5 separate regions of the Homo sapiens genome follow, and regions 2, 3, 4 and 5 are each linked to region 1. The links come from fine-mapping of genetic effects on gene expression. A gene starts in region 1. Each other region holds a variant in brackets. All regions are shown on one strand. Distances are from middle to middle.

Region 1 (5,100 bases):
CTAATAAACTAAGTCTTGAGGACAAGGTCTATATCTTATGCACTTTGAACCTGCTGCTAATACTTAGCCTAGTGCCTGGCAGGTAAATGTTAACTGCAGTAGAGACTTGGGTACACATCTGACTCTCCAAGTAGTAGACCATTAAAGGTCATATCATGATTGTATGTGTCCTCAATTGTGGGGAAAAGAGAGATCAGATTGTTACTGTGTCTGTGTAGAAAGAAGTAGACATAGGAGACTCCATTTTGTTCTGCAATCTGTAACCTTACCCCCAACCCTGTGCTCCCTGAAACAGGTGCTGTGTCAACTCAGGGTTAAATGGATTAAGGGCTGTGCAAGATGTGCTTTGTTAAACAAATGCTTGAAGGCAGCATGCTCGTTAAGAGTCATCACCACTCCCTAATCTCAAGTACGCAGGGACACAAAACACTGTGGAAAGCCGCAGCGACCTCTGCCTAGGAAAGCCAGGTATTGTCCAAGGTTTCTCCCCATGTGATAGTCTGAAATATGGCCTCGTGGGAAGGGAAAGACCTGACCGTCCCCCAGCCCGACACCTGTAAAGGGTCTGTGCTGAGGAGGATTAGTAAAAGAGGAAGGAACGCCTCTTTGCAGTTGAGACAAGAGGAAGGCATCTGTCTCCTGCTCGTCCCTGGGCAATGGAATGTCTCGGAGTAAAACCCGATTGTATATTCCATCTACTGAGATAGGGGAAAACCGCCTTAGGGCTGGAGGTGGGACATGCGGGCAACAATACTGCTCTTTAAGGCATTGAAATGTTTATGTGTATACATATCTAAAGCAAAGCACTTAATTCTTTACCTTGTTTATGATGCAGAGACCTTTGTTCACGTGTTTACCTGTTGACCCTCTCTCCACTACTATCCTATGATCCTGCCACATCCCACTCTCCGAGAAACACCCAATAATGATCAATAAATACTAATGGAACTCAGAGGCTGGCAGAGATCCTCCGTGTGCTGAGCGCCGGTCCCCTGGGCCCCCTTTTTTCTTTCTCTATACTTTGTCTATGTCCCTTTCTTTTCCAAGTCTCTCGTTCCACCTAACGAGAAACACCCACAGATGTGGAGGGGCAACCCACCCCTTCACTCAATAACTAGTAAGAAGTACTCAATACAGTTTTGTGGAATTAAAGTGTTTGCTTAAATCCCTACATAAAAAAAGATTTCTTAAATACATACTTATCAAAGCTTATAATTTATACTGTTGATACAATATGACCGCACAATATAATGCTGACACCTTACCATTGATACAATAATTACAATAGTAAGTACCTCACAAATGCCAAGTGACCAAACAAATATATCCTTCTACTTCAAAATAAGGCGCAATTACACATTTTGCTATAGGTCCAGAAACACCTGTTGATTGAATTAACAGTCAAATGTTACGACTGGTTCTTCACCAAAGGGTTTGATTTTTGTATCTGATTGACTCACATTTCATCCATTATCAAACATTTTTTCTTGTTGAGGAATGCAAGGTTAAATAATCAAATTTAAATATGCTTTATCACTCACATGAAGCAAAAGGCATTATTATTTCCATGTTATATATAACAGAACCAAAGGCAAGAGAGAGATGTGTGATTAGATGGAAGTGCTCCATGCATATACCAAGTCTTAACTTACCTTCATTGGCAGAATACTTCACTAGTAAGATGCGACTTGAGCTTAAAGCAATGAATATGGCACCTAGCAGGAATGTATACATTGTTGACAAGGAGCATATTACAGGATGACTACAGCACTGTTTTTCCATTCCACTGTTTTTTAATTACCTTAAAGAGAAAAACACTTTCATGAACGACCTTGTTGGCAGACCCTAAACGCAAATACCATTGATCGTGAGGACAAAAAAGGAATTTTTAAAAAATTTTGGCTATGACTATATCAGCACCAAGAAAGTTGAGGCATAAAGAAACTATGACAAAAGGAAAGTGAAAATCTGATAAGAGGGAGTACTCTGGAGACAGAAAACGTAGAACCAGATTAGACCTGCTGACAAAGGTAGCAGGTGAGCAAATGACACTTTGCAACAGCAGAAAAGAATTCTTCAAAGCAATTTTGAATTTTATTTTTAAATTTTATTTATTTATGTATTTTGAGACGGAGTCTCGCTCTGTCACCCAGGCTGGAGTGCAACGGCGCGGTCTTGGCTCACTGCAACCCCTACCTACCGGACTCAAGCGATTCTCCTGCGTCAGCCTCCAGAATAGCTGGGACTACAAGCGCCCGCCACCACGCCCGGCTAATTTTTGTATTTTTAGTAGAGACGGGGTTTCACTATGTTGGCCAGGCTGGTCTCGAACTCCTGACTGTGATCCGCCCGCCTCTGCCTCCCAAAGTGCTGGGATTACAGGCGTGAGCCACCGCGCCCGGCCTCGCTTTTACTCTTATTAGTAAATAATTTTGCTGTAAGATAAGGCTTTCAGAATTGTATTTTCCTCCTCTTTTCCCTCGGAGGAAAAAGCTTATTAGGACAGACTTCATTACAATAACGACCAAAATGGAAATATCTGAAACACTGCTGTAAAGTTTTACTGAACTAGTTAGTGTTTGAAATGGAGGAGATCGTAGAAATCAATGAATCTAAGGCCCTCTTTTGATAGGCTGAGGACACTAAACCCCAGGTTGGGTAAGTAACTTGCCCAAAGCCTCCCAGCGTACTGTAGGAATAGCGCATAGAGCCTGCGGGGAGTGGGGAGAAATGCCAATACTGACAGCCCCATTGGGCGCACGCCTACAGGACGCCTCCCCGACAGGAGGGGGCCAGATTTCCCTTCACAGTCAGGGACTACCCTTCTAGTCACACATGCGCAGTAGGGCTCTTCACTGGCGCACCCTCCCCTCAGACGCAGGCGCAATTCCTTGCCCGCGGGGCGCGGTTACCTCCCTCAGAAGAGCTTCTAGTGGAAGAACGCACATCCTAGAGCTGAGACAGTAACTGTCTAGCCCCGTAGTAGCAGCAGTAGCCTTTAGGGTCCATACGTGGAGAAGCTACAGTAGGTATAGGCGAAAAAGCCCCTCCCTCTAAGCCGCCTATTGCAGAACAAAAACCACGATTACGTCCGGATTGGGAAAAAGCGGACCCGACACCCATTGCGCAGGCACGTTCAGTGTTACGCTTCCGGAAGGAGGGGAGAAGCGGCTTATCCCGCCCCAGCCCGGCCCCTTTCTCACGTCACGTGCCGGGAGAGTCTAGTGTCACGTGAGGCCCCGGTGGCGGCGCAGCTACGGCAAGAGAGTGAGAAGGAAGGGAAGCCGGAAGGGGCGCGAGTGAAGCAAAGCGAGGACAGACAGCTCGCAGAGGGCGAGGGGTGCGTGTGCGTCCGCTTCTCACCTCAGGTCTCCCTTCGGCCCCGCTGCCCTCCCTCGCGGCTGGGTGACAGCTGGGTCCGGTCCGTCGCGGGCTGCCTGGGGTGCGAGGATCGCGCACCCCGTCTTCGCGCGCTGTGCCTGCCGCCCCGCCCCCTCGTCCCGCCCGTCCCGTCGCGTCGCGTCCCGTCCCCTCGGGTGCTGCCAGCCGGGTGCTGATGCGAGTCGGTGGCAGCGAGGACATTTTCTGACTCCCTGGCCCCTGACACGGCTGCACTTTCCATCCCGTCGCGGGGCCGGCCGCTACTCCGGCCCCAGGATGCAGAATGTGATTAATACTGTGAAGGGAAAGGCACTGGAAGTGGCTGAGTACCTGACCCCGGTCCTCAAGGTAAGCCAGGCCAGGGTTGCCGGGAGCTGTCAGGCACATGCTCGACTTTTCAGGGACCAGGCGCCGCAGGAGTCCCCGCTTTCTCCGGCGGGGCAAGGTGTAGGAAGGCAGTAGGGCTCGAGACACAGGGAAGTGTGCAGCCCCCACCCGTAGTCTTAACCGGCTGTTCGTTAGGGCTTTCTGACTCCTCAGGGGTAAACTTGGAGCGACGCTCTGCGTGTTCCTGCCTTCTCCCGTCATAACTCTGCGCGGTCGGGTACGTCGGGTTGGAAGGGTGTTCGGAGGCTGAGTAGATTGAAGAACGTTAAATCCAAACACTGGAAGTCTTTTAGCCTTTTTAAGCAAGGATTTTGCTTCTCTTTAAAAAATGAATTTAGTGTTTGACACACAGAGGTCAAAAGAGACCTGAGGTGAGGTCACTTTTCCTTTAAGTTTCATGAAAGTCCGCTGTAGTGGGGAAGTTGTGACTGCGATCCCAACTCGTTTAGATTTCAGAGGAAGGAGGTGAAATTGGCAACATTATCTCATTCAGTAACCTTGAACCCATCTAACGAGCAAAACCTTTTTCCCAAGCTTTTCAGATAGCCGTAGCTGGTTATTAGTGATAACAAGGCACGGTTTGACCTTCCTGGCTGTATAATTTTTAAAAATATATTGGCAACAGTACAGCATTTTTAAAGTAAAAAATTGTGACACATTAGCTGTTACAGTAGTGACTGATTTTTTTTTTAAAGGTAAATTTCTACAACTGCCTTCAAGCTTTTCTTTTATAACTCTTTTGGAGTGTTTTGTTGTAACTTCATTTTTGCTTTCTGAAAAGTGAGCAAGAATAGTAAATTAATGGGAAGTTCTTGCTTAGTTTTTGTTTTTTTTTTCTAGTTGTTTTTAAGCTTTCAGTTAGAATGTACCAATCTCAGTGTGGGGGTGAAATACCTTAATATGCTAAGAATAGTGGAGAGTTTTGCTTTGCTCCCTTTCCATGACAAAGGGAAGTACTAGGTCTATACTTTTTAAAATACGTTTTTGTAAAGCTCCTTTTAAAAGAATAACTTATTGGCCAAGTAAGAAATAAACCAGCGATTATAAATGAGAATTTCAACTGTTGCTTTGCTTACATTTGTTTACTGTGAAAGTCATTTTAAGATTATTCAGTCAAACTAAGATTGGAAAATAATTTTCACATTTGAATCAAATGCTTTTACATAATTATGTTAACTTTTCAGAATATCATATCTACCTAGGTATACAGTATTTTAATAATACACCATTGTACAACTTTTTAGTTTCCGGGAGAGAGGAGCAAGAGACTGCCCAAATGAAATATAAAATGTATGATGTAGAATTATGTTTTCAGGAGTCCATCATACTTGC
Region 2 (5,106 bases), 180 kb after region 1:
ATCAATTTACTGTATCACATAAATTTTTGCCATCTTTCAAATTTACCCTGAGACAAATTCTGTCATAACTGCCTATAACATTTTATCACTTGATTGGATAGATGAATACGCACAACCAGATTTGAATCTCTTTGCTTCCTAATTAGAATAAACACAGTAGTGTAAGATTTTATATTCTATGGCTTAGCAAACACGATTCCATTATTAATAGCTAGTATTCTGGTCTTATTATTTAAGCTGGGCAAGGCTGGAAGTGAGAACGTAAATTCAAGCAAAGTTCAGAGAAACCAGTTGTATGAGCTTCCTGTGGCTGCTGTAACAAAGTACCATGAACAAGGTTGTTTATTGTCTTGTAGGTCTGTAATATAGAAGTCTGAAATCAAGGTGTCAGCAGCACCATGCTCTCTTGAAATCTTTAGAAGAGGATCCTTCCTTGCCTCTTCCTAGCTTCTGGTGGTCCGCAGGCAATCTTTGGTGTTCCTTGGTTTGTATATGCATCGCTCTAGTCCTCCATCTTCACACGAAGTTCTTCTTGTGCCTCTGTGTCTTCACATGGCATCCTTTTTATAAGGATGTCAGTCATATTGGATAGCACCCTACTCCAGCATAATACCATCTTAACTTAATTACATCTGCGATGACCTGTCTCCAAATCAGGTCACATTCTGAGGAACCCAGGGTTTGGACTTCAACATATGTTTTTTGGAGGAAGCAGTTTGATCTCTAACGCCATGTTAAAATCAATGGACTGTAGATCCTGGTAATGTTAAGCAGTTTATCAACCTTGGCATTATTGACCTGTTGCACTGAATAATTCTTTGCACTGAATTATGTTTTGTACTGGAAAATTCAGGAGGTCTGTCCTGTATATTGGGAGATGTCACCAGCATCTTTGGCCTTTACCTGTTAGATGCCAGTAACACCCTCTTGGTGTGATAACCAAAAATGTCTTCAGACATCTCTAAATACCTGCTGGAGGGGTGGACATCAACATTGCCCTTAGTTGAAAACCACAGATGAAAGAAAAAGAATAAAGAAAGGCATACATAAAGGAAAGCCAGAGAGGAAGCGAACAGGAAAAATAGGAAATTTTCTTATGGCAATGGGAAGTGTGTAAATGAGGTAACAAAGGGGTATTAGTTTCTGTAAGAAAAAGATTAGGATATGATTATAGGAGTGAGGCAAGTGCCAGATGTAGGATGAGGACTGGGTTGGTAGAGGGGAAAAAGCCTGGGAATTAAAAGGATCATGTGTGTACACATTGATATATAGCGAATAATTTTATCACAGAAGTAGTTTTGGAGGCTGACTGTTAACCAGGAACTAAAATCTTCAAGAAATGTGGGAGGCAGGGGTGATCTGGGGAAGATGAATGACTATAACAAAGGGAAGGAGAAGGTAAAATATCTGATTATTTGAGATTCAAGCAAGTCCTTTTATGGAGTCAGAAAAGACAGCAGCCTAGAAGTGGCAATGGGGGACAAAAAGGACATCCCTTCCCCCCATGCATATGTCTGCATCCAGTGATACAAGAAAGGCAAAACCACTGCAGGGGGCTGCAGGGGATACTGTCCTCCAGGGGCACCAAGTTCAGTTAGTGCAAGAAGAGGTGGAAGGGAACTTTTAGGAAAAAACTTGAGGCCACAGAGAAGTTTGCTGATTATTGGAGTTCCAGGGAACAGAGTTGGAGGAGTTCAGTGGTTGAGGACTGATCAAAAACAGGAATTAACAGAGCCTTATCAAAATGAGTGTAAGGAGGAATGAGCAATTTCCTAAGAATCAGTCCTTGGTTTCTTGCAATGACTGATGTAAATATGGATAAAGACATATTAGATAATGGTGACAAAGCTGGTGTTTTTGAGAGATGAGGGAGGAGGGATCTTGTCAGGAGCATGCAAAGTTTGAGGGCTCTCTCTTAATCTTTGATGGTGGATTTTTCAGGGTCATTTTTCACTGGGCCCTGAATGGCAGCTTAGAGGAAAGCAGTTTTCTGCCAGCAAGATATTTAAAAAAGAAAGAAAAAAGCTTGAGTGTTGGAACCTGAACCCTCTGAGTTTGTATGCCAGCTCTCAGCTCTGCTACAAAGAAGAAGGGAGATGTCTTGTCTTTTTTTTTTTTTTTTTTTTTTTTCTGAGATGGAGTCTTGCTTTGCTACCCAGGCTGCCATGTAGTGGCTCCATCTCAGCTCACTGCAACCTCCGCCTCCTGGGTTCAAGCAATTCTCGTGCCTCAGCCACCGGAGTAGCTGGAGTACCTGGGATTACAGGTGTGCATCACCAAGCCCGGCTAGTTTTTGTATTTTCTAGTAGAGACGGGGTTTTGTCATTTGGCAAGACTGGTCTCGAACTTTATTTTTAACAAAAAAGTTACTGAAATATATACTGAACTGTCTGCTGAGTTGTACAGACATTAATAACTCAGTCACATTTTAAATCAATGTTTTTTGCACTTTCACATAACCC[A/G]TGGGGAGAAATACCTTTTATGGCATAATCCAAAGTACATATTTGTGAGCATTTTATTAATGAATACTTGCCCTTATTGCATGTTATGCACACTGGTAATTTATTTATCATATTATTATTTTGTATGAGACAGGGTCTTGCTCTGTCACCCAGGCTGGAATGCATTGGTGCAATCATGGCTCACTGCATCCTGGACCTCCTGGGCTCAAGAGATCCTTTCACTTCAGTCTCCCAAGTAGTTCAGACTGCAGACATGTAGTCACTTCATCCTCTCCATTCACATGATTTACACTTTGTAACTTCACATTCATCCTCTCCATTTACCTAGATCACACGCATCAGGTAACATCCTCTCTATTTACAATATGGCACATACTGAGTAAATGACTCTGTGACTTCACTTCATTCTCTTCATTTACATAGAATATATGCCAAGTAACCAATGGGAAACCTCTAGAGTATTGAAACCCCAGAATATTCTGTAAGTGGGGCTCTTGAGCCCCTATGCTCGGCCCGCTCCCACACTGTGGAGTGTATTTTCATTCTCAATAAATCCCTGCCCTTGCTTTCCTCGCTTTGTTTGTGTGTTTTGTCCAATTCTTTGTTCCAGATGCCAAGAACCTGGATACCTTCTACTGGTAACACTGCTGTTTTTTATATTGTTTCAAATAGAAACAATTAAGTTCATCTCATGATACCAATTTTGAAGCAACTTTATTCTACAAACATACATTGAGCACCTTCTCTCAGCCTAGTTCTGATGGTTATTTCAAATTTAAAGAATAATGTAGATTCTGTACCACAGGCCACTGGGGAAAACAAATACATAAATACTTACCAAATAAAGCATTACAATAGAAATCTGTCAAAGTGCTGTTGGATCTTAGCCTAGAAAATCTGAGAACATCCTTCAAAAGGAGAGGACAATTAAACCTTGCTTCAAGATGGAGTAGGACTTGTGTATACAGAGAAAATGTGCTATGAAGATATAAATTGTGTTCCAGGTGGTTATTTCTTAGGCTAAGACACGTACAGAATTTGGTTTATACAAATAGTGCTTTACCACTTTTCTTCTGAAATTTAATCAATCTCATTTATCATCTTTCTTGGATTTTAGAAAAAATATTTCATTTCTGTAGAATTGTCCTGCTGTTGGCTGCCTAACTATAGCCAAAGAAGTGACAAACTAAAGAACTTTCTGGAAGTAATTTCACAGAAAATACCAAGTAAAGCACATACTAATTTGGGTAAGATTTAATCTGCCTGCCAGGAGTATTCATCATGTGGATTGTGCTGTGGTTACAAAGAACACCAAAACTGTTTCCGCACTCAAGATGCGTGCATGTGCTGGGAAGGGGAACAGACAAATTAAAGAAGAAGACAGGCAGTAAGTAGTGTGTAGAGCCATGAGAGGGGATCTTCTGACTCTGGGAAACGGTAGAGTTGGTCTCAGAGAAAGCACTCTGGAGAGGAAGAAGGGGCACCTGAAATCTAGATATGTGTTAATTTACTTAGTTCAGCAGTTGCAGATTCAAGCTCTATGAGAGGTCAGGGAGGTAACCGAGATGAGTGTAACACCCTGTGGACAAGATAAGATGTGGTGGGGTCTTGGCAAACCAAGCATCATAGCCAGTCTACGGGAAGCAGTGGGCAGTCCTCTGGCCGAGTGTATGAGTCTGTTTTCACGCTGCTGATAAAGACATACCTGAGACTGGGAATAAAAAGAGGTTTAATTGGACTTAACAGTTTCACATGGCTGGGGAGGCCTCAGAATCATGGCAGAGGCTAAAGGTACTTCTTAAATGGCAGTGGCAAGAGAAAATGAGGAAGATGCAAAAGCAGAAACCCCCGATAAAACCATCAGATCTCGTGAGACTTATTCACTATCATGAGAACAGTGTGGGGAAAACTACCCCAGTGATTCAAATTATCTCTCACTGGGTCCCTCCCACAACACATGGGAATTATGGGAGTACAATTCAAGATGAAATTTGGGTCGGGACACAGAGCCAAACCATATCATTCTGCCCTTGGCCCCTCCAAATCTTATGCCCTCACATTTCAAAACAAATCATGCGTTCCAACAGTTCCCCAAAGTCTTAACTCATTTCAACATTACCCAAAAGTCCACAGTCTAAAGTCTCATCTGAGACAAGGCAAGCTCCTTCCATCTATGAGCCTACAAAATCAAAAGCAAACCAGTTACTTCCTAGATACAATGGAAGGTATGGGGTAAATACAGCTGTTCCAAATGAGATAAATTGTACAAAATAAAGGGGTTACAGGGCCCATGCAAGTCCAAAATCCATTGGGGCAGTCAGATTTTAAATCTCTAAAATGATCTCCTTTGATTCCAGGTCTCACATCGAGGTCACGCTGATGAAAAAGGTGGGTTCCCATGATCTTGGGCAGCTCCACCCCTGTGGCTTTGCAGGGTACACCCTCCCTCCCAGCTACTTTCACAGGCTGGCATTGTGTGTCTGTGGCTTTTCTAGGCAAACGGTGCAAGCTATTGGTGGATCTATCATTCTGGGGTCTGGAGGACAATGGCTCTCTTCTCACAACTCCACTAGGTGGTGGCCCAGTAGGGACTCTGTGTGGGGCTCTGACCCCACATTTCCCTTCTGCACTGCCCTAGCAGAGG
Region 3 (5,106 bases), 75 kb after region 1:
TGTTTGTCTGTGATAGTATTTTCTGATAGAAGCTAAAATCCTGGTTGATGTCACAGAAAATTATTGGTTTATTATACCGTTAGTAATCATTTTAGTTTCTCAAAAAATCATTTGTTTAATTTCTATGTTAAACTCTGACACTTTCTTAGCTCAAGTTAAGGCAATCTGCATTCATTACAGTCATTCATTTATTTGAATGGTTGCAACCACTTTGAAGTTTCCATAAATTTGTAAGAATTTTTCAATGGAGACATAGTGAAACTCAGGTGAGATTTTCCTCATGATAATGGTTATAATCAAAACATATGGTATTTAAAAATAAGAAATAATGATATTTTATAAAATATTCATAATCATAACCCTCTTTTTTTTTAAATGGCTGATTGGTTTCAAAAATTACCTACTCTCTTCAGCTCAGCAACTACACTTGCTCAGCTGGGAGTTACGAGACTATACAGTTGTTTGTGGCTGGCACTCCTTTCTGATCAGCTGATCTGTGTAGCTGGATGGCCATGGAGTGTCACTTGTTAAATATTTTTAATATCCACCCCTGAGTGGACATAAATCAGGCCTTTTCAAACTGAATACTTGTAAAGTCTAGCTTTTCTTTGGTAGTTATAACTTAACCACTGTAAGGTATGTTGAGCTGCATATGTTCTTCACCTCAGTGCCTTTTAGCCCACCTCTCTAAGGGCTTAGCTGTCTCTGCTGTGCAACCAGTACTACATAGAAAGGTAACACACCATCAAGGAAGTAGCAGACTAGATAGAAGACAGAAACATGAACACATATGTAGTTATAAAGAGTGATGCATGTCGGCTGGGTGCGGTGGCTCATGCCTGTAATACTAGCACTTTGGGAGGCCAAGGCGGGTGGATCACAAGGTCAGGAGTTCAAGACCAGCCTGGCCAACATGGTGAATCCCCATCTCTACTAAAAATATAAAAATTCCCCGGGCGCAGTGGCAGGTGCCTGTATTCCCAGCTGCTCCAGAGGCTGAGGCAGCAGAATTGCTTGAACCCGGTGGGTGGAGGTTGCAGTGAGCTAAGATCGCGCCACTGCACTCCAGCCTGGGTGACAGAGCGAGACTCCGTCTCAACAACAACAACAAAAAAGGAGTGATGCATCTCACACAAAATAGCATCAGACATTTGCTAGGGAGTGGGGATATGAGGGTATGGTAAGTTTGCATAAACTTACTGGGCTAGGCCCAGTGCGGTGGCTCACGCCTGTAATCCCAGCACTTTGGGAGCCCGAGGCGGGCGGATCACGAGGTCAGGAGATCGAGACCATCCTGGTTAACCGGGTAAAACCCCGTCTCTACTAAAAATACAAAAAATTAGCCGGGCGTGGTGGTGGGCACCTATAGTCCCAGCTACTCAGGAGGCTGAGGCAGGAGAATGGCGTGAACCCGGGAGGCTTGCAGTGAGCGGAGATTGCGCCACTGCACTCCAGCCTGGGCGACAGAGCGAGACTCTGTCTCAAAAAAAAAAAAAAAAAGAAAAAAGAAAACGGAAACTGTGACAGTGATGTGGAGAATTGAGGTGGAGGGAGGGAAACAAGGCCAAGTTTGGAATGTAGAAGACCATTTGGTACGCTGTGACAATAATCCACATGAAACAGAATGAGATCCAAATTAAGGCAGTGTCATGGAAACAAATATGGAAGACATTTTCCATCCTGAATCAATTGAACTTCATGGCTGATGGAATGGGACGGTGACAAGGAAGGAGACTAAGATGGCTCCCCAGGTTCTGGCTAATGTGATTAGGTAGATGATGGTATTATACTGTGATAATGAGAGGAGGACCAAATTTGCCTGGGGGTTGGCTTGGAGGAAGAAAGAGATTTATCTTCCCCCATGAAGCCTTTCCTGATTGACCCAGCCAGAAAGACTGTCTTCCTCTTGAGGGATCTGAAAGCTCTGAGAGATTATATCATATCCAAAATAATACAACAAAAATCTAATGGCAAAATTGAAAAGTGGTGTAAGACTTTCAGCCTCTTCTTTGTGCTAGAAACTGTCTCGTTACTAATGTGTCAAGGACAGTGGGATATCCAGACTCCTGGGTGTGAACAAGTGGCTCCATTGTCTGTATTGAATTTAAAAACAACTAAAAGTTGATTTCCTTTTTTTTTTTTTGACACAGA[T/G]TTTCGCTCTTGTTGCCCAGGCTGGAGTGCAATGGCACGATCTCAGCTCACCGCAACCTCCGCCTCCTGGGTTCAAGCTATTCTCCTGCCTCAGCCTCCTGAGTAGCTGGGATTACAGGCATGCGCCACCATACCCAGCTAATTTTGTATTTTTTAATAGAGACAGGGTTTCTCCATGTTGGTTAGGCTGGTCTCAAACTCCCGACCTCTGGTGATCCGCCCGCCCTGGCCTCCCAAAGTGCTGGGATTACAGGCATGAGTCACCACGCCCGGCCGGTTTCCTTTTAATTATCACCACATACTAGCAAACATGAACAATGTCAGAGGTGAAATATTTACCCTTCAAAATATTTTTGGTCTAAGTTCTAAATACTATGGTTACTGTTGAGTTTTATGATATATATGTAAACTTCAAATTAGCACATTTGTAGTATATATCATTTGACAAACATTGCATTCTACTTGCAAGTTAACTCAGAGAACTTCCCAGTTATACAGCTGGCCTTGGACATATACCATTCAGCTACTTGTGTTCATTTTGATAGCAAATTTATAAAGTCCAGGATCACTCCAGTTTCCTCCAAGGACACTTTGTGTCCTCATCTCTGTGGTACTACATACTCCAGCCTTTCAACATTCAATTTTAAATAAACAATAATACCACAGAGAATGCTGAGACAAAGAAGCAGAACAGGAGCTGTTTCATTTTTGTCATTTGGTGCAAACTTCTTGAATTTTTATTTGTGTTTAAAATTTAAAACAGTGAAAAGGATACAAACTGTGATATATAAAATCTTCGGCTTGGCAACTTTATTTCATGCATAAAATGTTAGATTGATTAATATTTTTACAATTGAAATTTTTTTAATGTTGTTTTAAAACTAACTTTAGAAAATAAAACTTTAGTGTTACAATTTAGTAGTTACCTAAATTGTATCTTTGCAGAATTTCAGTTTTAATACAATCCATTTATTAGTTATTGGACAACTATTTACATAAACTATTATATCAGACTATAACTAAAGAATCAAAGTTCATACTGTTTAGGTGGATATAAAAATGATTGAATAAATACCTGTGCATTTTTCTTTTTTTGTATTTTAATTTTTTTAAAACATTTTTTCATTTGTATGGTTTTATACATGAAGTTCAGCACAAGAAAATATTCATTGTCTATATTTCTTTTCTGGCCATTTTATTACTTGTTTTATCTCATGATTATTTCTGAAAATATTTTTATGTATAGAGAAAGGGGTTGCTCAAATGATGTACTCTAGACCTAAAATAAAATATCATCGGTACCACCTGATCGTGGAATATATATACCACTAGTGGTTTTGATAAAAATTTTAAACATGAAAGAATTTCTAAACCTATAGTGACTTAACAAGGGATATTTCATTATATAAGAGCCTGGGGGGGAGTAGAAGTTTTTATTCTTTGTTTGTTGGTTTGTTTTTTGAGATGGACTCTCGCTCTGTCACCCAGGCTGGAGTGCAGTGGCGCGATCTAGGCTCATTGGAAGCTCCGCCTCGCGGGTTCACGCCATTCTCCTGCCTCAGTCTGCCGAGCAGCTGGGACTACAGGCTCCCGCCACCACGCCCGGCTAATTTTTTGTTTTGTATTTTTAGTAGAGACGGGGTTTCACCGTGTTAGCCGGGATGGTCTCTATCTCCTGACCTCGTGATCCACTCGCCTCGGCCTCCCAAAGTGCTGGGACCACAGGCGTGAGCCACCGTGCCCGGCCAGAAGTTTTTATTCTTTTACTGCATGTATTTATTTTAATCATTTTTAGCATTGAAAATTTCCTGTCATCAGATATGAATGCTTGAGAAAAACAGCAGAGATAATAAGAGCAGGAATAAAAATAACTGATGGTTCCGGCTACTTGGGAGGCTGAGGCAGGAGAATCGCTTGAACCCGGGGATGGAGGTTGCAGTGAACCGAGATCGCTCCATTGCACTCCAGCCTGGGCAACAAGAGCAAAACTCCGTCTCAAAAAATACATAAATAAAAAATGAAATCAAATAACTGATAATTGGAAGTTGAGTAACAGCCAAAAGCAACTGTGATAGTTATTCCTCTTCGGGAAATATTTATTTGATAAGACAAACTTTTGGGGGATAGCTTTGTGTGTCCTAAGTATCATAAGATGGATATGCATAATTCAGAACAGGCAGAAAAGGGGTGTTAACAAGCTTGTCAGATGGACAATTAGAATTGTGCTATTTGTCGGCCAGGCCGGTGGCTCACTCCTGTAATCCCAGCACTTTGTGAGGCAGAGGCGGGTGGATCACCTGAGGTCAGGAGTTCGAGATCAGCCTGGCTAACATGGCGAAACCCCGTCCCTACTAAAAATACAAAAATTAGCCGGGCGTGGTTGTGGGTGCCTGTAATCCCAGCCACCGGGGAGGCTGAGGCAGGAGAATCGCTTGAACCTGGGAGGCGGAGGCTGCAGTGAGCCGAAATTGCATCACTGTACTCCAGCCTGGGCAACAAGAGCGAGACTTCATCTCAAAAAAAATAAATTAATTAAAAAAAATAGAATTGTGCTATTTGTCTCAGTGTGTCATTTTTACACTACAAACATCAGTGTTAGCCTCTGAGAGATAGGAGGTATTATAATACCTTGTTTGTGCACAGAGGGAGTACTCTTGATTTCTAATGCCTGCTTGCAAGCCTACATTCATCATCGGTTCATTCCTCCATTCAAGAAAAATTCCTGTGCCAGTCAGTGTGGTTGTCAATGATCATTATCCTGCTGATAAGAATATTTAGGAACTGCAATGTTTCCATAATCCTATTGTGAATCAGTGATGCCACCAACACAAAAAGCTAGCTCTTTTCTCCACCCCTAACCCACTTTGCGCACTGCTCCGGAGCATACAGTCACAAAAGACAGAACTTGAAGTGATGTCTAATTGTGCCACTAACATCAAGTGATAGCCCTATGGC
Region 4 (5,106 bases), 90 kb after region 1:
TGCCTGTTCTAGGGATCAAGTTGGGGCTGAGATTAGGATCAACAATCTATCTATTTTGTGGAGGAAAGAACCCAACTTTAGGGGAAAGGGAATAACATTCCCTCCTAAATCCTGTGCCTTGGGGGGTTTTATGGAACAAAGTATGTGAAGTATGAAGTGGTGAAAGAGAAAGTCTAAGAGCTAAATAGGAGACATGAAGGGCCTTGTCAGTTTCTTTTTGAACATTTCTACTCTCTTAGTTTCCTACTCACCTATCCTTCCTATCACTCCCTTCCTTATCAGTTTGTTAATTAATGCTCTTGATCCTCATGGAAAATCCCAGAGAATTTTCTTTGGCTTCCTACTCTTGTCTCTCCACAACATTCCACTCTGTGATGTGTTTCCTCCAATTGCTTCTATAAGCATCTCGCACCATCATTATCTTCCTTCTAAATAATTCCAATTAATTCTATGATTGGACTCTTTGTCTTTAGTATTTCCCCATTTTGGTCAATTTCAGCCAAATACACTTAAATTACCTCATACACTTCCTTCATAACAACACTCTCTTGCATAGCATCCCCAGTGGTCACAATATTGGGCTCATCTTTGTTAACCAGCATTCAAAGTCTTCCACAGTTTGATCCCACCACCTTTCTAGATTGTTTCTGGATTCCATATACAGCCTCTCAATTGCAGCCTGACGGCCTTACTTGCCATAACCACATCTCCATCATTGCCCTGTGTATGCTGCTCTTGCCACTTGTAGAGCACCCATTCATCTGTCTCCACCTATGGAAATTCTACCCCTCCTTTCAATCTCAGCTAATTTTCCAAGTTCTTAAGGAAGCTTTTCATGATCACCTGAGGGGAAGGGATCACTCCTTTTTACCAATTTTTATGCCATTTAAGTCTGTGCCTCTCATTTATCATTTCCTTTCACTGTAGTAATGTGTGGAAATGTCTTTTAGGTCCCATGAAAGATTATAATGTCCTGGAAGGCTGGAATTTGTGTAATATTTCTTTTTTTTTTTTCTTTTAACTTCCTTCACAAAAGGTAAATTGTTTAGGAATTAACTTTAATTTAAACTCTGTGTGGATTTAAAACTAATTTAATCTAGGTGTGCATTTTTCTTTAGTGAAGTGGTGAAAACAAAAATAACAGGGAGGGTCAAAGAAAAATTCCTTTTCCTTCTGAACCTGAAAGTGCTCAGTGAACTAAGTATAAGGTGAGGAGAAAAATATATTTTGGAAATATGTTTAAGGACCATGCTTTTCATAAAGAAATTTTGGAGGTCTGATAAAAAATATTTTATTTTTTCCTGTGAAATATATTTCCGAAGTGATTTTGGACATTTTCTTGTTTTTATAAGTGACTTTCTTTTGCTGTTTATGTTCAAGTTAAAAGTTCATGTAAGAACAGGACTGTGACAGAGTTGGGGCTTGGATGCTCTTGGGAAAGCACTATTCTCCCAGAATGAAGAAAAGCACCTTGCACAACAAGCCAAAGTCCTAGGGGAAAAGTTGACAGAGCTGGGGAACAGCCCTTGAAACATCCATTGGCCTGCCACTTCACCCTTCCCAAACTTCCCTTGGTCAGTTTCAGATTAAGAACTTCCCCAAGGCTGGGCGTGGTGGCTCACATCTGTAATCCTAGCACTTTGGGAGGCCAAGACGAACAAATCACTTGAGGTCAGGAGTTTGAGATCAGCCTGGTCAACATGGTGAAACCCTATCTCTACTAAAAATACAAAAAATAAACTGGGCACGGTGGGAGGCGCCTGTAATCCCAACTACTCAGGAGGCTGAAGCAGGAGAATCACTTGAACCCAGGAGGTGGAGGCTGCAGTGAACCGAGATTGCACCACTGCACTCCAGCCTGGGTGATAGAGCGAGACTCCATCTCAAAAAAAAAAAAAAAAAAAAAGAAGAAGAAAAAAAGAACTTCCCCAAAATGTGATCATTATCTGTGGCAGGAAAGTGGGTGTGGAGTGAGAGGGCAGGAAGTCCTTGTGGGCTTCCACCCTGATTTGGAGCACCTGCTGAATGTGCCTCTTCTTATTCCAGGTGCCAGAGATATCATTGTGCAGACTATACTGTGTCCTTATGCTTAAGGAATGGGGAAGAGGTGATCAAAGCAGACAGACAAAGATTGCGTTGTATTTACAGTCTTTCAGTGAGCTTCAAAATAAGCCCAGATATTTACTTTGTGTCAATGATCGTGGGGTTGATGTTCCACAAATTGTGCTTACTGATCTTGAGATAGATTGTTGGATTCTCTGGTAGTGTGCAAACACTGGAATCCTCCCCAAGGCTAGCTCTGGTTTTGGACACGTGAGAGTACACCCTCATCATTTTCTCAATCAATTTCAGTTATTTACCTTGTTTCTCTATTTCAGAACAAACTCAAAATAAGTTAGGGGGAGTTTTGAGTTTGTTCTGAAATAGAGAAACAGTTTGTTCTGAATTAGTTTTATTTGATCAAACTAATCAAGTAAAATTAAGGAAATTAGGTTTTTTTGGTGGTTAAAGAAATAACAGAAGTTGGATCTTCTTGATCCAGCAGATCTGTTTGTATTAGGGTATCTGTTGTAGAAACCTTAGTCCCCATTGCTATCCAAGACCCTCCCCCAGGCAGCTGTTTCTGGCACTCCTGGCAGTGGTTTGGCTGCTCGCTAACCTAAACAGCAGCTGCAACATCAATAGACAACATTTGTTACCACTCTGAATAACCAAACCACTTTTTGTGCAACTTCAGTTGCCTCTAATCATTTTTACCCCAAACCTAAGCATCTAGCCAAACAAAATAACATTATAATATAATTAATAGAATTTTTTTTTTGTTTGAGATGGAGTCTTACTCTGTCACCCAGGCTGAGTGCAGTGGTACCATCTCGGTTCACCGAAGTCTCCACCTACCGAGTTCAAGCGATTCTCCTGTCTCAGCCTCCCATGTACCTGGGATTACAGGTGCATACCACGCCCAGCTAATTTTTGTATTTTTAGTAGAGACGGGGTTTCACCATTTTGGCCATGCTGGTCTCGAACTCCTGATCTCAAGTGATCCGCCTACCTCGGCCTCCCAAAGTGCTGAGATTACAGGTGTGAGCCACCAGGCCAGACCTTAGAATATCTTACTCCAGTATTTTTCATACTGTGTTAACTGTAACCCAAAATTAAAAAAAA[C/A]AACAACAACAACAACAACCAGATCTTACATCACAACCCATAATGCACACAAATATAAAAAAGTTTCATAAGGTCATACTTAACCATAAGACAGAGTTTCTCCATTGACACTTTGGTCTGGATAATGTTTTGTTGCACTAAGTGGGGGTTGCATCCTGTATAGTGTAGGGTGTTTAGCAGAATCCCCGGCTTCTACTCACTGGTTGCCAGCCTCCCTCCCCCTACCTTGTTACAGCCAAAAATGTCTCCAGACATTGCCACACATGTTCCCTGCTTGAGAACCACTGCTCTAGTGTGTGTGATGCATTCTGATGATTTCTATCCTCTTCTGTTTCATTTTTTAAAATGCTATTTGTGACATACTAAATTGTTTCACAACCTGCTAATGAGCTGTGAACAACTGCAGACAAACAGGGCCTCAATGCGTATTAACATTGATCAATAGTAATGCGCATTAGCTGTGTGCCATGCAGAGCACTTTTAAGGCTATCAAAAGTATTTGATATTTGGAGATTCTGATAAGTTACGAGACAAGGAAAGGACATTGTGTTGAAGAAACTTGAATTTCCTGTTACAAACATGTTGGCTTGAGTTCCCATTGCCACTCACTAGCTATCTGACTTGGAGCAACTCTTGGGACAAAATAAAGACAATGGTTTTCCTACTTAAGTGATGAATATGAGAGTTAGATACTGTAAATAGAAAGGCTTAATGAAGTACCTTCTGACAGTTATCATGAAGATTGTTCTGTGGAAGATTAACTCTATCAGAATAAAGAATTTCTGCAAAAGATAAATTATCGCAGAGCCACGTCTGCTCAGCAAGAAAGCAAGAGGTGGCTGAGGGCACTGGGATTCTTGAGGAATGCCTCTGAAGGGGAAATGGAGGCATTGGCCTGAAATCTCCTTCACTCAAGTTCTGACAATGCAGAGGGGTGCCGCTGATCCCAATATATCTCAGATTTCCTAACTCTCTTTAGCATTTACTAACATTCCAGATGTAAAAAGTGCCTCAGAACGACCCTCCAAGGACGAAATGGCAAGCAGACCCTGGCTCCTGTATCGTTTACTTCCTTTGGGGGGATTGCCTCTACTCATCACTACCTGTTTCTGCCTGTTCTGCTGCCTGAGAAGGCACCAAGGTGGGTTCTATTTTCCCTCTGCCCCCAGTACCACACATTTGGGGCCATTCTTATTTCTGGGGCTAAAGGATTTTTAGTTTCTTCCTGTTGTTTTCTTTCCCAATCCTGTAAACCATGGATAATGATTTCCTAGAAGACAACTCATATTTGCGCTAAAAAGCTAAATAGGTTGGTTGGGGCTCCCTTGAGTCACGGGAGAGGCATGCTCACCACGCACAGTATTCCAGCTAGAGTTGTGGCGAGCATAGCACATTGCTGAGACTTCATCATTCTCTTTGCATCAATCTTAGGTTTGTGTGAGAAAGAGCTCTTCTAAACCTTAACAGGATTGGAAGTTGAAACAATCTCTCAGATCAAGATATCTGCTTTATTTTGTATTATCCTCTTTTCACAGCCACACCACATCATGCCAATCCCACACACACCCTTATGTAACTGAAGAACCAATGTCCCCAGAGAAAATTAATATGTCTGTATTTTCTATTGCCATTATAAACATATGCTTGACCTGAATTCTTACCCAACAATAATGCATATGAAAAATGTGGGTTTGGCTATGATGGGAATGGTGTGATATTTTGAAAATAATTCCTTTCTACTTTTGCAAGAACTCTCTCAATGTCATGACCAAATATGTTAAGTAAGAGAGGAAAGCATAGAGAATTCTGATCTAGCTTTGGCCTGAACTACTTCAGTTTTCTCTTTCCTTTTTCTTCTCCTCCATCCTCTCACATTCCTGTTTTCACAACACCAGCTACAGTGTAGCTATAGAAACTGAGCTAGATAGAGCAACACTTATT
Region 5 (5,106 bases), 40 kb before region 1:
TTCCCCAATGTGGTCCATGGTGATTGTGTACGATTTAATTGATTCGATGCAACTTCGGAGACAGGAAATGGCGATTCAGCAGTCACTGGGGATGCGCTGCCCAGAAGATGAGTATGCAGGCTATGGTTACCATAGTTACCACCAAGGATACCAGGATGGTTACCAGGATGACTACCGTCATCATGAGAGTTATCACCATGGATACCCTTACTGAGCAGAAATATGTAACCTTAGACTCAGCCAGTTTCCTCTGCAGCTGCTAAAACTACATGTGGCCAGCTCCATTCTTCCACACTGCGTACTACATTTCCTGCCTTTTTCTTTCAGTGTTTTTCTAAGACTAAATAAATAGCAAACTTTCACCTATTCATGAGTTATTATTGAAACCTCAAATCATAAAGACATTTAAAAGAATTGTTTTTCTAACTGGAGGGGCTCTAGTGCTAAATAATAGTACTGAAAATTGATATTATTTTCCTTTTCTTATATGAAGGACCTTATTTGGCATATAAAATTTTATAAAATATGTATTTAAAGCTTTTTCTTATTTTTTGTATTAATTGGTAAGTGAAAACTCTGTTAAAGATCACACCACAATGTTTTCAAGAAACATCTGAAAAGATAAAACAAAGAACAAATAACTTATAATACTTACTTAAATTGACACTTTTTGAAATGCCAGTCTGAAAATAATTAAGATATCTCTGCTTTGTATGAGTTTCTTTTATGAAACTTGATACCACGGGAGTCCAGTAATATTGGCCACAAAAGCCAGAGAAAGTACCAAGCCCAGCTTTGTTATCATAGCCACTTCCTGCCCTGCTTCTGTTATTTTTAGTGTTTTTTCAGATATAAATCGGGGTCCAGGAAATCCTCACCAGAATCTGGCACTGCAGCCAAAGGCGATACTTCCAGAGTTCTAGTAGGCTGCTATGGAATTTCTGGCATGAAAATTCTTGACCCCTCACACTTTACCCCCTGTACAGCACAGGCATACCATGGAGATATTACAGGATCAGTTCCAGACCACCATAATAAAGTGGATATCGCAATAAAGTGAGTCACACAAAATTTTTGGTTTCTCAGTGCATATAAAAGTTATGTTTACACTCTTTAGTAGTCTATTAAGTGTATAATAGCTTTATGTCCAAAAAATGTACATGTTTTATTTTAAAAATACTTTATTGCTAAAAATTGCTAATGATCATAATCTTTTTGCATTGATGTTGATGGCTGCTGAATGATCAGGGTGGTGGTTACTGAAGGTTGGGGGTGATGGTGGCAATTTCTTAAAATAAGACAGCAATGAAGTTTGCCACTTCGATTGACTTTTTCTTCATGAAAGATTTCTCTGCAGCATGTGATGCTGTATGATAGCATTTTACCAGTAGTACAACTTCTTTTGAAATTGGAGCCAATCCTCTCAAACCCTGTTGCTGCTTTATTAATGAAATTTATGTAATGTTGTAAATCCTTTGTTGTCATTTCAATAATGTACATAGCAACTTACGCGAGTAGATTCCATCTCAAGAAATCACTTTCTTCGTTCATTCATAAGAAGCAAGTCTTCATCTATTAAACTTTTGTAATGAGATTGCAGCAATTCAGTCACATCTTCAGGCTCCACTTCTAATTCCAGTTCTCTTGCTATTTCCACTATGTCTATAGCAGAGCTTCCTCCAATGAAGTCTTGGGCCTCTTAAAATCATCCATGAGGGATGGAATCAGTTTCCGAACTCATTGATCTTCCTATTTTGACCTTCTCCCATGAATCACGATGTTCTTAACAGCATCTAGAATGGTGAATCCTTTCCAGGTTTTTAATTTGCTTTGCCCAGATCCATTAGCGGGATCACAATCTGTGACAGTTATAGTCTTACGAAAAGTGCAAATGACTCCTTGATTCCTGTGCTGCACAATAGGTATTGTGTTAGCAGGCACGAAAA[T/C]ATTAATCTCCTTGTATATCTCTATCCAAGTTCTTGGGTGACTGGGTATATTGTCAGTGAACAGCTATATATATATATATTATAGTGGTCTGGAACTGATCATTTATATATATATTTTATATACATATATAAAATATATAATATATATTATATATATATATATTTTTTTCGAGATGGAGTCTCGCTCTGTCACCCAGGCTGGAGTGCAGTGGTGCGATCTTGGCTCACTGCAACCTCTGCCTCCGGGGTTCAAGTGATTCTCCTGCCTCAGACCCCTGAGTAGCTGGATTTACAGGCGCCCACCACTACACCCAGCTTATTTTTGTATTTTTAGTAGAGATGGGGTTTCACCATGTTAGTCAGGGTGGTCTCGAACTACTGACTTTGGCCTCGGCCTCCCAAAGTGCTGGGATTACAGGCATGAGCCACTGCGCCCGGCCCGAACAGCAATATTTTTAAAAGATTCTTTTTTTTTCTGAGCAGTAAGACTCAAAAAGTGAGCTTAAAATGTCCAGTAAACCATGCTGTCCATAGACATGCTGTCATTCAGGCTTTGTTGCTCCATTTATAGAGCACAGGCAGATTAGATTTAGCATAATTCTGAAAAGTCGTAGGATTTGGGGAAATGGTAAATGAGCATTGATTTCAACTTAAAATCACCAGCTGCGTTAACTTCTAACAAGGAGTAAGCCTGTTGGTTGAAGCTTTGAAGTGAGGCATTGACTACTCCTCTCTAGATACGTAAGTCTGAGATGGCATCTTCTTCCAATATAAGGCTGTTTCATCTCTTTTGAAAATCTATTGTTTAGTGTAGCCACTTTCATTAATTATCTTAACTAGATCTTCTGGATAACTTACTGCAGCTTCTACATCAACATTTGCTGCTTTACTTTGCACTTTTATGGATGCACAAGGCTTCTTTTCTTCAAACTCATGAACCAGACTCTGCTACCTTCAAACTTTTTTTCTGAAGCTTCCTCACCTCCCTTTAGCTTTCATAGAATTGAAGAGAGTTAGGGCCTTGCTCTGAACTAGGCTTTGGCTTAAGGGAATTTTGTGGCTGGCTTGATCTTCTATTCAGATGACTCAAAGTTTCTCCATATCAGCAGTAAGGCTGTTTTACTTTTTTATCATTCATGCATTCACAAAGTAGCACTTTTAATTTCCTTCAAGAACTTTTCCTTTGCATTTACAACTTGGTTGTTTGGCATAAGAGGCTTAGCTTTCAGCCTGTCTCAGCTTTTGACACACCTTCCTCACTAAGCTTATTCATTTCTAGCTTTTGATTTAAAGTGAAAGATTGCAACTTCCTCTCACTTGAAATACCTGGAGGCTATTTTAGGGTTATTAATTGATCTACTTTCAATATTGTGTCTCAGGGACTAAGGAGGCCTGAGAAGAAGGAGAAAGATTGGAGAAAGGTTGGTTGTTGGAGCAATCAGAACATACACACATTTATTAAGTTTACTGTGTTATATAAGTGTGGTTCATGGTGCCCCCAGTAATTATAATAGCAACATCAAAGATCGTTGACTACAGATTTTAATAACAGAGATAATAATGAAACAGTGTGAAATATGGCAAGAATTACCAAAATGTGACACAGAGACATAAAGTGAGTACATACTATTGCAAAAATGATGTCAACAGACTTCCTTGATGCAGGGTTGCCACAAACCTTCAATTTGTAAAAAATGCAGTATCTGAGAAGTATAATAAAATAAGATGTGCCTGTACTTACTTGCTAATGGACCTATTACCATACTGGCATCTTATAAAAAAAATTACAAGGAAGGAGATTATATCCAGGGATTCTTTTTGTTTTCAAGGCAAAGGTTACCAAGTTACAATGGACCAAAGTAGCTGGAATGCAAAGGAGTATAATCCTTGTCTTTGAAAAAAGAGCATTTGTTTCAATCATATGGCATATCAAAGTAAACTTTCTCCCTTCCTCCCTCCTTTCGTTGCTGCTGCTTCTTTTTTTTCTCTTTTTTTTTTTCTTTTTTTGGAGAGGGTCTCACTCTGTCACCCAGGCTGCAGTGCAGTAGTGCAATCTTGGCTCACTGCAAACTCAGCTTCCCTCAAACAATCCTCCCACCTCAGCATCCCAAGTTAGCTGGGACCACAGCCATGCTCCACCATGCCCAGCCATCCTTGCTTCTTTACTACATTTCTTTTTTCAACAAATATTTATCAAGTAATATTGTCAAGTAATATTTATGAGCTTCCCCTCAGATAGGCATTTAGCATCATGATGGCACCATCCTCTAACAATAATGGGAAGGCTATTTTCCACTGTTATTAATCATTAATTCTCCAAATCATTTTAGTATTATTATTAATTCTAATAAGTACAGAGATTAATAAATGCATTCAAACCACATGTGAATATTTGCTATAGGTTTATCTGTGCCTACTGTATGTTCAGATTTTTCTTTATATCTGAACTTTGTTATAAATAAATGACAGTAAAAATGGAATTTATAGTTCAATGAACTTGACAAATCACTTATTCTGCCATTCATTTTCCATAAAGACCATTCATTCTTCCTTGTTTTACAGGTAACTGAGCTCCAGAAAGCTCAAGTGACTTTAGAACTCAGTTCTTAGTGTGTGAATTATGCTCCCATCTCATCCCTCTTCCTTGATGGAGCACTTTCCTCCTCATTTTTTCTTGGATAGTCTGTACAAGCTGCCTGAGGTGTGCAGGAAAGTGAGCCACGTCGAAGTGTACTGCTTTTAAATTTTTGCCAGGATGAAGCATAGCCCAAAGTTGCCAATAAAAATGGATTTCTTTACCTTTCTGAAATTGTGTGATGACAATTTCTAAGTAAAGGACCCAAATCATGTCAACTTCAGGAAATATAATAATGAGGGAGCCAGGAGCAGTGAGGGGCTCACACCTGTAATCCCAGCACTTTGGGAGGCCAAGGTGAGCGGGTCGCTTGAGCCCAGGACTTCGAGACCAGCCTGGGCAACACGGCAAAACCCTGTCTCTACAAAAAAATACAAAAAATTAGCTGGGTAAGGTGGTGTGTGTCTGTGGTCCCAGCTATTCAGGAGGCTGAAGTGAGAGAATCGCTTGAGCCTAGGAGGTCGAGGCTTCAGTGTGCCGTGATCGTGCCACAGCACTCCATCATCATCATCCTGGGTGACAAAG

The links.
Region 2: its variant is fine-mapped to the expression of SLC35A5 in sigmoid colon (GTEx, PIP 0.99).
Region 3: its variant is fine-mapped to the expression of SLC35A5 in fibroblasts (GTEx, PIP above 0.99). The same link has a PIP of 0.9 or more in esophagus mucosa, ileum, lung, pancreas, spleen and subcutaneous fat.
Region 4: its variant is fine-mapped to the expression of SLC35A5 in thyroid (GTEx, PIP 0.98).
Region 5: its variant is fine-mapped to the expression of SLC35A5 in tibial artery (GTEx, PIP 0.97). The same link has a PIP of 0.9 or more in esophagus muscle.

Annotation. Positions count from the first base shown.
Region 1 is chr3:112,560,086-112,565,185 of GRCh38, reverse strand. It overlaps SLC35A5 (solute carrier family 35 member A5), which reads right to left and starts at 3,141. Exons shown (of 7, transcript NM_017945.5): 1 at 2,913-3,141; 2 at 1,653-1,801. The coding sequence starts at 1,782. It overlaps ATG3 (autophagy related 3), which reads left to right and starts at 3,224. Exons shown (of 12, transcript NM_022488.5): 1 at 3,224-3,729. The coding sequence starts at 3,658. RefSeq lists enhancers at 1-412, 413-1,222, 2,843-3,652, 3,653-4,462.
Region 2 is chr3:112,381,650-112,386,755 of GRCh38, reverse strand. It overlaps LOC105374041 (a long non-coding RNA gene), which reads left to right. Exons shown (of 4, transcript XR_924334.3): 2 at 4,820-4,850. Among named protein-coding and RNA genes, the nearest start is that of CD200, 51 kb to the right of the region's middle. The variant A/G (reference allele first, on the strand shown) is at 2,463.
Region 3 is chr3:112,484,623-112,489,728 of GRCh38, reverse strand. The region is part of intron 1 of BTLA (B and T lymphocyte associated); the gene reads left to right. Among named protein-coding and RNA genes, the nearest start is that of BTLA, 12 kb to the left of the region's middle. The variant T/G (reference allele first, on the strand shown) is at 2,152.
Region 4 is chr3:112,470,412-112,475,517 of GRCh38, reverse strand. BTLA (B and T lymphocyte associated) reads left to right here. Exons shown (of 5, transcript NM_181780.4): 3 at 4,163-4,306. Among named protein-coding and RNA genes, the nearest start is that of BTLA, 27 kb to the left of the region's middle. RefSeq lists an enhancer at 1,354-1,854. The variant C/A (reference allele first, on the strand shown) is at 3,166.
Region 5 is chr3:112,600,525-112,605,630 of GRCh38, reverse strand. CCDC80 (coiled-coil domain containing 80) reads left to right here. Exons shown (of 8, transcript NM_199511.3): 8 at 1-5,106. The coding sequence ends at 214. Among named protein-coding and RNA genes, the nearest start is that of CCDC80, 38 kb to the left of the region's middle. RefSeq lists an enhancer at 1,574-1,743. The variant T/C (reference allele first, on the strand shown) is at 1,947.